Homo sapiens: one gene and its partners. The protein of the gene in region 1 purifies or fractionates together with the protein of each later gene. This does not show direct contact. Each region holds a gene or a part of one and is shown on either strand. Other genes may lie near its edges. The genes, in order: MFN2, SLC25A38 and NCEH1.

What was found.
Region 2: the proteins of MFN2 (region 1) and SLC25A38 purify together in Homo sapiens (affinity purification with western blotting; one study listed by BioGRID). This does not show direct contact.
Region 3: the proteins of MFN2 (region 1) and NCEH1 purify together in Homo sapiens (co-immunoprecipitation; one large-scale study listed by IntAct). This does not show direct contact.

Annotation. Positions count from the first base shown.
Region 1 is NC_000001.11:12,011,380-12,014,097, forward strand, and holds the end of MFN2 (mitofusin-2), read left to right. Parts: intron 1-116; coding exon 117-186; 3' UTR 187-2,129; downstream 2,130-2,718. UniProt on the Homo sapiens protein: Mitochondrial outer membrane GTPase that mediates mitochondrial clustering and fusion. Mitochondria are highly dynamic organelles, and their morphology is determined by the equilibrium between mitochondrial fusion and fission events.
Region 2 is NC_000003.12:39,382,045-39,386,197, forward strand, and holds the start of SLC25A38 (mitochondrial glycine transporter), read left to right. Parts: upstream 1-1,325; 5' UTR 1,326-1,680; coding exon 1,681-1,749; intron 1,750-2,196; exon of another isoform or gene 2,197-2,281; intron 2,282-2,390; exon of another isoform or gene 2,391-4,153. UniProt on the Homo sapiens protein: Mitochondrial glycine transporter that imports glycine into the mitochondrial matrix.
Region 3 is NC_000003.12:172,631,068-172,634,720, reverse strand, and holds part of NCEH1 (neutral cholesterol ester hydrolase 1), read left to right. Parts: intron 1-628; coding exon 629-1,246; 3' UTR 1,247-3,653.

The DNA of each region.
Region 1 (2,718 bases):
TGTTGGAGGATGATGTAAGGGTGTGTGTCAAGCGTCCTTAGGATGGTGCCTGGCGGGTAGTCCTAATACTGCCTATCATCAGCTATCATGGTTACAAAAGAACCATTTCTTTGCAGGAATAAAGCCGGTTGGTTGGACAGTGAGCTCAACATGTTCACACACCAGTACCTGCAGCCCAGCAGATAGTGGGCACCTGAGGCGGAGTCTGCGTGGAGAGGGGCGGTGCTGCCAGCCCTAAGTGCCATGTGGGCTCCCCCAGGGGCACGTGTGGCTCCTGCCCCCTGGCCACTGCCAAGAGAATGAAGCACCCAGTCTCGTACCATTTTGAGCCCTCCAGCACTACTTATTTTCCCCCACCTTTGCCTGCTGTTGCTGGAAGAGCTGGCTCATACCCCCAAAGGACACTTTCAGCGACAGCTATGGACAGCATGGTACCAAGGAGTTAAGTTGAGGCTTTTTCCAGCTTTCTCTGGTTCATTTGATTGCTTGATAAGGCCTCAGGATCTCAGCATTGCACAATGCCTCATGGAAGCCTTTGAGGGTATCACACAGACACCCCCACCTTCCTCCAGCCTGTGCGCACCTGCCCTCCTTGCAGCCCAGCACACCTGCAGGTGTAAGGGACGATTGGAGTTTCTTCCCAGAGAGTCTGTCCCAGAAGGACTGTGGCTTGTGTGTGTCCATCTCGCCTGTTGGCTCAGTGCTTCATCCCATTTGCAGAGCCTCAGACACGTCTTGGTGGTGAGGCTCAGTTACCCCTGGGCTTAGGCTGAGGCGGGCCCTGTGCTGGGGGTGGTAGAAAGGATGCTGCTGAGGCAGCTGGAGGAGTGGGAGTAGCTCAGAGGGGAGGGCTGTTGGATGTATGGGGAGCTGGCAGAGCAGGTGGCAGTCACTGGGACAAGGAGGGACTTGCCTCTCTTCTCATTATTGTGTCCTTTGCTTTAGTGTCAGTCCTGGACTTGTGCAGGCCTGTTTTGTGTAGATCTGTTTTGGAAGATGGCATGGTCTAGGTGGTTGAAGGATGTAGTAGAAGGATGGATGGTGGAAGGTGGGGACGTTGGTGGCTGGCTGAGGTGCATGGGCCCCACACAGGACAGCTGGAGAATGGGCCGTCCACTTGGCCTCGTTCTGCGAGGGGCTCATGGGTCTGAGAGCCCCCACCCACTAGGCTTGATTGCATCCCTGTTGTGCCCTTTAAGAGACATGTTTCCACCCCACCCCCAACCTTGTCCCAAGTGCCCTGGACTAAATTTCCTGTGCCAGTGACTGCAGTTGGCCAAGGGACAATGTGGAAAACCCAGTGTCCATCTTTCCACCCTCCCTGATCTCCAGAACCTTCGACTGACCCCCTTGTCTTTATGCTGATGTTGAGTTTTGGGATTGTTACTGGTTGAAGTGGGGGCAGATGCCTGTCACCAAGGTGTTGACTGTGTGAGAAAAGCAGTTTGGGTGACAAATCCTGTGTGGCACAAGTTGGATCGCTTCCTAGAAATAAGCAACACCTCTCCCAAAAAGCAGCCCACAAGGCAGGGGCCCAGCAGCCCAGCCATCACTCATCTTTGAGGAAATGAGTTGGTAGCCTCTGTGCACTGTTTGGTGGCCACATCACAGGTGATGTCCTGTTCACATACCTGCTTGTATTTAAAGCCCTCAGTCTGTCCTGTTGTGTGGGGCGAAGTGATGGACTCTGCCAGGTGGACATGCTGTGGGTGGATGTTCCCGGCGTGTGCCGGGCCTGAATGGACAGGGGCCACTTCACAGCATGTCAGGGAAAATCACTGTCACACAATTCCAATGGATTTTGTGCTCTTTTTGAAAAAAAAAAATTCTTTAGCGTAAACATGAATTTTTTTTCAATGTAGCCCCTGGGGAATGAATGAAATTTTGAGCTTCTTCAATACGTAAAATTAAATTTATACCACTGAGGGAGAGACCCTTTCTGAAAGAAGTATGGCCAAAAGCACTTTAATGCTGCTGACATTGTTGTTTTTATGTTCATTTGCTGGAGCGCAAGACGTGCTGACACAGTGAGTTTTCTCTGATGTATTTAAGGTGATGTATTTGCTTGAGTTACTCCTGTATCATTGCTCATAATATTGGAAACTAAAATAAAACCTAGTTGGAAATCCTTTGTGAGATCTGTCTTTTTGGGTTCTTGTACAAACTCCTCTTTGACATGGCCAGCTGTATTCTGAAGTGACCATAACTTTGGGGAAGTTCCCACTATAATCTGGCTCCTTATTCTTGGAAGGAATTTGATACTCTCAAAAGAACAGATGGTTTAACTGATCTTTAAGGATCAGGAAATCGAGACTGATTTCTTTACAGATTTCTCTGTAACTCCAGACCATTTTTCACTTAAAAAGTAAATGACTCACTGTTCCATCCTGCTTTGCCTTCTGAGAATTTGGTTGCCACTATTCTTTTTTTTTTTTTTCTTTTTTGAGATGGAGTCACGCTCTGTCGCCCAGGCTGGAGTGCAGTGGCACGATCTCGGCTCGCTGCAAGCTCCGCCTCCCGGGTTCAAGCAGTTCTCTGCCTCAGCCTCCCAAGCAGCTGGGATTACAGGCGCCGACCACCAGGCCTGGCTAATTTTGGTATTTTAGTAGAGACAGGGTTTCATCATCTTGGCCATACTGGTCTCAAACTCCTGACCTTGTGACCCACCTGCCTCGGTCTCCCAAAGTGCTGGCATTACAGGTGTGAGCCACCGCTTTT
Region 2 (4,153 bases), on another chromosome or scaffold:
GGCCCACTGCAAGCTCCACTTCCTGGGTTCACGCCATTCTCCTGCTTCAGCCTCCCGAGTAGCTGGGACTACAGGCGCCTGCCACCACACCCGGCTATATTTTTAGCAGAGACGGGATTTCACCATGTTAGCCAGGATGGTCTCGATCTCCTGACCTCGTGATCGGCTCGCCTCGGCCTCCCAAAGTGCTGGGATTACAGGCGTGAGCCACCGCACCCGGCCTGTAATTTTTTTTTTTTTTTTAATGTTTATACTTTCCTTAATCCTTTCTGGGAATAACCTCCTCTGGGACCACTTTCCTTCCTGTTCTATGTACCTCAGAAGCACAGGAATGAAGCCTGAAAAAATATTATCTTGCTCCCTAAGTCACTTTCCTTTCTGATCTAGTTCTTGGGTGATGAATGAAGGTGGAAAGTAGCGAAGGTTGCTATGAAAAGCTTGGACTTTATTACCAGGGCCACTGCATTTTCAACAGGAGTGTCAGGATCCCAGCAGTAATGCTTTTCCATGGATCAGCCAGACAGGCATAAGGGGAAGTTGGGAGACCAAAAAAGCCATTGACAGATTCCAGGTGAGCAATAAACCAGAATTTTGACCAACTAGACCAGCGCTGTCCTACAGAAATGTAATGGGAGCCACATGTTAAAGTTTAAATGTTTTACTAGCCACATTTAAAAAGAAACACATGAAGTTATTATTATTTGTTTTAGAGACGGGGTCTTGCTTTGTCGTCCACGCTGGTCTCCAACTCCTTGGCTCCCTCAAGCAATCCTCCAGACTAGGCCTCACAAAGTGCTGAGATTACAGGCCTGGGCCACTGCCCCCGGCCTGAAGTTAATTTTAATATTTCACCTAACCCAATATATCCAAAATATCATTTCAACATATAAAAATTATTGAGATTTTACCTCACCAGTCTTAGACATCCAGCGTGTGGTTTATGCATACAGTACATATCAATTCCACACTAAATTTTCAGCATTTAAAGGGAAATATGGTCCTGAAAAAAAAACAACAAAACAAAAAAACGCCTGTTTAAGGAGAAAGCATTCCACACTGCTTGTTTTAATATAATTAAAATTAATGTATCAATTAATAAATCAATAGCCCACGTTGGCTAGTGGCTGCCTTACTGGGCAGACCAGGTCTGGATTGTAAATACGTTCAGACGTTCCACGCAAAAGCAAAGTTCCCTGCAGACGCTCCATTAAGTTCTGGGTGCAAGGAAGCGCGGATCCTTCAGTTCTGGGCGTTTTCACCAGGTGGCACTCAGAACACCCTCACGTGACAAGCGTCCCACCCGGAAGCGAAATCTCCCCTTCTACAGAGTTCCTCCGGCGCTTCCTCCACCCCGGGATACACAGAACCTCATCTCCTACGGTGCTGAAGCCTGCAGCAGGGCAGGATGGGCAGGAGAGCAGAGCCGCGGAGTCTGCGGCGCGGGTGAAGAGCGGCGCGTAATTCCCGCAGCAAGATTGTTCCGCGCCCGCAGCCCCTGGACTAGCAGGATCCGAACCCCGGCGGCTGCGTGCTTATAGGCGCAGACGTCAGAGAGCCCGCGGCTTAAAGCGCGTCGCCTGGCTAGCGCCACCCCCTAGCCTTCTTCAAGGCCTCCAGGGCTGGGCCCAAGCGCCCGTCGACGGCACCCTGGGCCCAGAGGACTCGCGGGCCTCATCTCCAATGATTCAGAACTCACGTCCGTCGCTGCTGCAACCCCAAGATGTCGGAGACACGGTGGAAACGCTTATGGTGAGGGCACTGCGGGGAAGGAAGGGCAGGGGTCCGAACCGCGGGCTCGGGCCGGAGAATTCGGGGCGTTGCTAAGGCTCGGCTACCCTTTTCCGCGCCCCAGGGTGCGCTCAGGATTTAGGATGCGGCGGGAGAGGAGTCTGACTAAGGGAATTGAGAAGGGGGCAGGGAGTGAGGAGAGGCCAGGAGCTGCAGGCCAGCCCTGGGGGCAGGCGCTGTAGGGCCGATGTCCCGGTAAAGGGCGGAATTGCCGGGGCCTGGACTGGACGCGTGCCGGGGAGTGTGCCCGCGCGGCCCCCACAAGGTGCGAGTAGGCTGCCAGGTGGAAGGGCACCCGGGCAGATTTGGGACGGTCACAAGGCCTGATAATAGCGCTGACGCTGAGAAGCCGTTGATGCCGCAGCGAGCTGGCCGGGTAGCGCTGTGCGCCCGCGGGCGGCGGCCTACCTGGAGGGGCCAGTCGTGGCGGCACCCTTCCAGCCTGTTGGGACGGCGCGTGGTCCCCCAGCGACGCCACGCCTCCTCCGGCGTTCGATTGGTCATCGTGCCCGGGCCGCCGGGCCGCTATTGGTGGAGGCGGAGGCGGGGCTGGCGGCGTGGTTGCCCGGTAGGTGGAGTCGGGGTGCAACCAGTCTTTAGACGCTAAAGGCCTGAGGCCACTGCAGCTGCCGCAGCTCTCCCTCTGAGGTCTTGCGCCCGAGGTAGGGGCGGCTTTTATTTTTTTTTTTAATCCTTAAAGGCGGAGACGGCGGCGGTGGCGACTTTACGTTGACGTCTTTGAAAACCTGCTTACCTTTTTCAGGGCTCTCCAGCCCTCGCCTCCAGATGTGAATTGGACTTAGGATAGTTTTTTCAGGGCAGTAGGAATTGCTTGTGGATCCAGTTTGTACTCTTATGTGCTACTTATTTCGTGTGCGTATTATTGTTTATGCCCTCTTCTTTCTCCCCTTAAAAAGAAACTACTTTTTTATTTACCTTGAATATATTTTTGAGCTTTCTTTTCTTTTTTCTTTTTTTTTTTTTTTGAGACAGAGTCTCGCCCTGTCGCCCGCGCTGGAGTGCAGTGGCGTGATCTCGGCTCAACTGCAACCTCTGACTCCCGGGTTCAAGTATTTTTCCTGTCTCAGTCTCCCACGTTGCTGGGATTACAGGCGTGCGCCACCACGCCCGGCTAGTTTTTGTATTTTTAGTAGAGAGAGGGTTTCACCATGTTGGCCAGGCTGGTCTTGAACTCCTGACCTCAAGTGATCCGTCTGCCTCGGCCTCCTAAAGTGCTAGGATTACAAGTGTGAGCCACCGCGCTTGGCCTTGAGCTACTTTTTAAAAGTTAAGTTCACTCGCAAAGGATGTGTGCCATTCACCATTGACAAAAATCTTAAGACCATTCAGTATTACCTGTTGGGATGGTTTTTGTTGTTGTTGTTGTCTTGTTTTTGCCTATTAGAAGTTGATCTATACTGCTAGTATAAATAACATCTGCTCTGTGCTAATGGACTGGGAAAAGTACAAAGCTAAAAAAGTTATTGGCTCAATAACTTGAGCCAATAACATGTCTAATCACTGTGCTGTGAAATAAAAGACGTTAAGAAGATATTTCCTGCAATCAAGGGTGGGAAGGTCAAGGACAGCAGCAAATTTGTTTTAAAACAAATTCCACACAGCACCTGTGTGAGCACTGGGGAAGCAGCGCCTAACATAACTGCCCAGAAACTAACTGCAGGTCATTCCTATAGCCTTGCTGGAGCAAGGGGCCTGGAGAGAGGTGGGGGAGATTAACCCATCCTGGGATGAGTCATGCAGGGCCCACCGAGCCCTATCATGTGGGATTGTGCTCAAAGGGAGAGCATAAGGTTTCCTGTTAGGTGGTAAGATTCATTCCGCTGTCACTGCTGAACACCTACTGTGCACCAGGCTCCGAGGTCAGTTCTTGAGATATCACCATGAACAAGACAGGCAGGAGTTGTGACTATTCTGTCTTTGACACGCAGTCATAAGGGAGATGGGGACAGGTGTTGCTGTAGAAGCCGGAAGGAGAGGCACTGAACTTGGACATGGGGGAGTTAGGGAGCAAGACCGGTGCTAGGGCATAACAACATGTCAGAGTTTTCAGAGGTGAAAGTAAGGCGGAGTCCTCCAGTATGGCTGCAGAGTGTGTTAGTGGGAGGGTGAGAACATAGGCCAAAACGGTTAGCAGGAGCCCTGTGATACATGAAAGGCCCTGCAACCAGCAGTTTGGACTTTATCCTGAGAGGAATATGAACCAATTAAAGGGTATTGGTTTGGTTGGGTTTTTTAAAATTATAATTCAATTAGTATTAATGACAAATTTGTGGGATACTCTGTAGCTCCTAATACATTTGTCATTACTTGTATTTTTATTCCATCTTTTTTTTTGGTCTTGTTT
Region 3 (3,653 bases), on another chromosome or scaffold:
GGGGAGGTGTTGGGGGACTGAGATCTGTTGAGGTAGGGGATTCATTCACATTCCCATGACAACTTCACTCTGGCATATGCTCATTATGTAGAATGGAGGGTGCATTGCCAGAACTATTTAAATTCTGTCTCACCAAGCGTGAAGATGCTCACCAGAAAGCATACCCTGAGGTCCTACTTAAACACTCAGGAGTCTCATAATCTGCTTATTAAGTTTTTTCTGCCCCTCTCTTCTGGAAGAATAAGACTAATTTTTTTCCCCCTAGGAAGCCATGACCTTTTTGGGGGTTTTGTAGGGAATAAAAAATTAAATAAGGTTCACACATTATCCATTCATAATACCTAGGTGTCTTAACTGCCTAAAGATAGATACAAGTACAGGGTTCACTCAAAACTGAGTTGTAAACATCATACCTTTCTTAGTTAAATATCTAGCAGCTTGATAGGGTGGTGATGGTAATGATGGAGAATTATTTTTTAAACTTTATTATTTATACAGTGCCTGGTAGAAATGTAACACTTATACCATTGACAGATTCAGAGTAACACATGAAGCTACTCTACAGGGTATGGTTCCTATAAAAGAAGGCATGCAAAATGAAATAATGTATTTGCTTCCTCTTCTCTAGTTTACTCAAGATGCCAGCCTAAAAAATAAGCTCAAACTACAAGCTTTAATTTATCCAGTTCTTCAAGCTTTAGATTTTAACACACCATCTTATCAGCAAAATGTGAACACCCCAATCCTGCCCCGCTATGTCATGGTGAAGTATTGGGTGGACTACTTCAAAGGCAACTATGACTTTGTGCAGGCAATGATCGTTAACAATCACACTTCACTTGATGTGGAAGAGGCTGCTGCTGTCAGGGCCCGTCTAAACTGGACATCCCTCTTGCCTGCATCCTTCACAAAGAACTACAAGCCTGTTGTACAGACCACAGGCAATGCCAGGATTGTCCAGGAGCTTCCTCAGTTGCTGGATGCCCGCTCCGCCCCACTCATTGCAGACCAGGCAGTGCTGCAGCTCCTCCCAAAGACCTACATTCTGACGTGTGAGCATGATGTCCTCAGAGACGATGGCATCATGTATGCCAAGCGTTTGGAGAGTGCCGGTGTGGAGGTGACCCTGGATCACTTTGAGGATGGCTTTCACGGATGTATGATTTTCACTAGCTGGCCCACCAACTTCTCAGTGGGAATCCGGACTAGGAATAGTTACATCAAGTGGCTAGATCAAAACCTGTAAAGGAGCAAAACTTCCAGAAGCCTCGAGCCCCTCTTGACCTCCTACACCTGCTTTGGAAAGACATGCACTTTTTAGTTGACTAATTCTTCCTCCCATTCCCCTCTACTTGCGAGTTATGGAATTTCTATTCCATAACTGAAGTCTTTATGATAACCTAATTTTTAAAAATGAATTTGACTAACTTAAGTGCAAAACATGTAAATTTGGTTCCCAGAGTGGGCCAATCTCTCTGTTCTTGTTATCTTAGCCAACTATACTGATACCTACAGCTACAGAAAGCAGGACTAGGAACTGGAAATAACTTTGGGTCCTGCCTTCATTAGGACGTTCTTTTTAGAAGCAGTTCTTCCAGCTCTGGATCATAGAGTGACCTTTAATAAGTTAAAAAAACGAGGACTCCTTAATTCTGCTAGAGTTAACCTTGAGTTCAGAGCAGTATTAAATGCGTGCACTTTCAGGTCAGTACTGGGGACCAAGTACCCTCTGGTCTTTTGTGAATGGATGGTTTTGTTTCCTATGGGAATTTTGGCAAAGGTTTTCTGGAAAGAACAAGTTTCTCAAAGGACTTTCTTCCTCTAGAATGTTCATTTTATGAGATCGCTATCTGTAAGTCCAGTTGGATTACAGGAATACTTGAAAGTTACTTTCTACCACTATTAGAAAATATGAAGTCGCATGCACTGGATATCTATATATCATTAGGTTTTTGTTGTGTTTTTGGTTATGCTGTCCCCCTTCTCCTTGGGGAGATATTTGGGAGCAAACTTATTTAGATTTAGAGTAAACTTTTCATTATAGAGCAAGTAAAAACAGACAAATGAAACAACCTAGTGTTTCACATAAAAATACTTCTGACATAAAGTACCAAGAGCAGTGTGAATATACTTGGCATAGTCAAAAAAGAAAATACATTTAATATTAGTTCAAAATTGTTAAAAATACCTTTAGAAGGTCTAGTCTATTATTGAAAACTCAATTTTTTCACTTATATGGCTTTAAAATGGAGCTATTTTGCTACAATATAATGTATTGTTTATTTTTTTAAGTTATTTAATGTTAATATACATAGCTAGACTTAAGGTTTTTCAGAAAGATGTCCATAATAAATATTAAAAACAATGGTATTTTTTAAAAAACTGCCTTAGGGTTTTAAAACCTTCCCTACAGTTATAACCACGTGTAATTTTGTGGAAATGATATAACAGCTATTAATACTACTATAACATAGGCATAAATATTTTCGTGTTTATATGCATATACAAGTTAAAATAATTAGAAACTATGACTGCGCCTAGTAAAGTCATCTAGGTTTATAGTTCAGTAGCTTAGGCAAGGCACACACTGCTCATCTCCGCTTTTTAGGGTCAGAGGAACACAAGCTCATGTTCTGAGTGAAGGGCGTACACTGGCACCTGGTGTTGCCTAGATCCCCCATCTCCTCCTTCCAGCCAGGTCTGGAAGTTTCAACAGCCCAAGCTTAACTTCATGTAAAGTCTTCACTGCCAGTGGGAACATCTTTGACACAACAAGACACTCCAATTGTGATTTGAGTTGAGGATCTCTGCCTGCCTTCCTGCCGTCCTTCCTTCTTCCCCGATCCATGCTACTTTTAGGGGCTGCGGAGAGCAGCAGCAGAGCTGAGTAATGATACAGGGCACCACGGAGAGAAAGTAGAACCATTTCACTCCTGGGAAGATGGGGTATTTCCCACTTCCAGCAACGAAATAACAAATGAAAAGTTGCATACTTATTGATGTATTGTATGAGCCAGTAGCATTTTATGTACAAAACAGAAGTCAATGCAACAGTATGTATGTGTGCCTGTGTGTGTATAAAAATAACCATTGAAGCTAACTTGCTAATGTACTTAGGCAAGCCACTTCCCATCTCTGGGCCTCGTCTTTCCTCCCTCTAAAATCAAAGAGCTGAATTATGTGATCCTTGAGGTCTCTTCCACTTATAATACCAACTGTCTTGTCAGACTGGCAAATTATATTGGCCTCTCCTTATGTGGTGGTTTTTTTGGTAGGTCATAGTTCCTTATACACAGACACCTGCATCATCGAAGGTCTTTTTTTCCTAAAAAAAAAAAATGGGATTTTAGTTCTTATTCTGTGATAACTATCCTCCTCATATAATACTATTCTTTTTGACACCATTTGAAGGAACCAATATTTGGACCTTATTTTGAGGTTGTCTGTCTCGAAGAAAAAGAAAATAAAATGTATAGGCAGGGTTCCTTCAATTGGCATTTTCCCCAGAATTGTGAGCCAAAGCCTATAGTAATTGCAGACAGCAAATGATTCCGGATCTCTAAAAGGCTCTCTCAGATGAAAAGGGAGTAAAGGAAAAAAGAGGTCAACCACTGTTTCTGATAATGTACTTGAGTTTCATTGTTCTTTTAGTT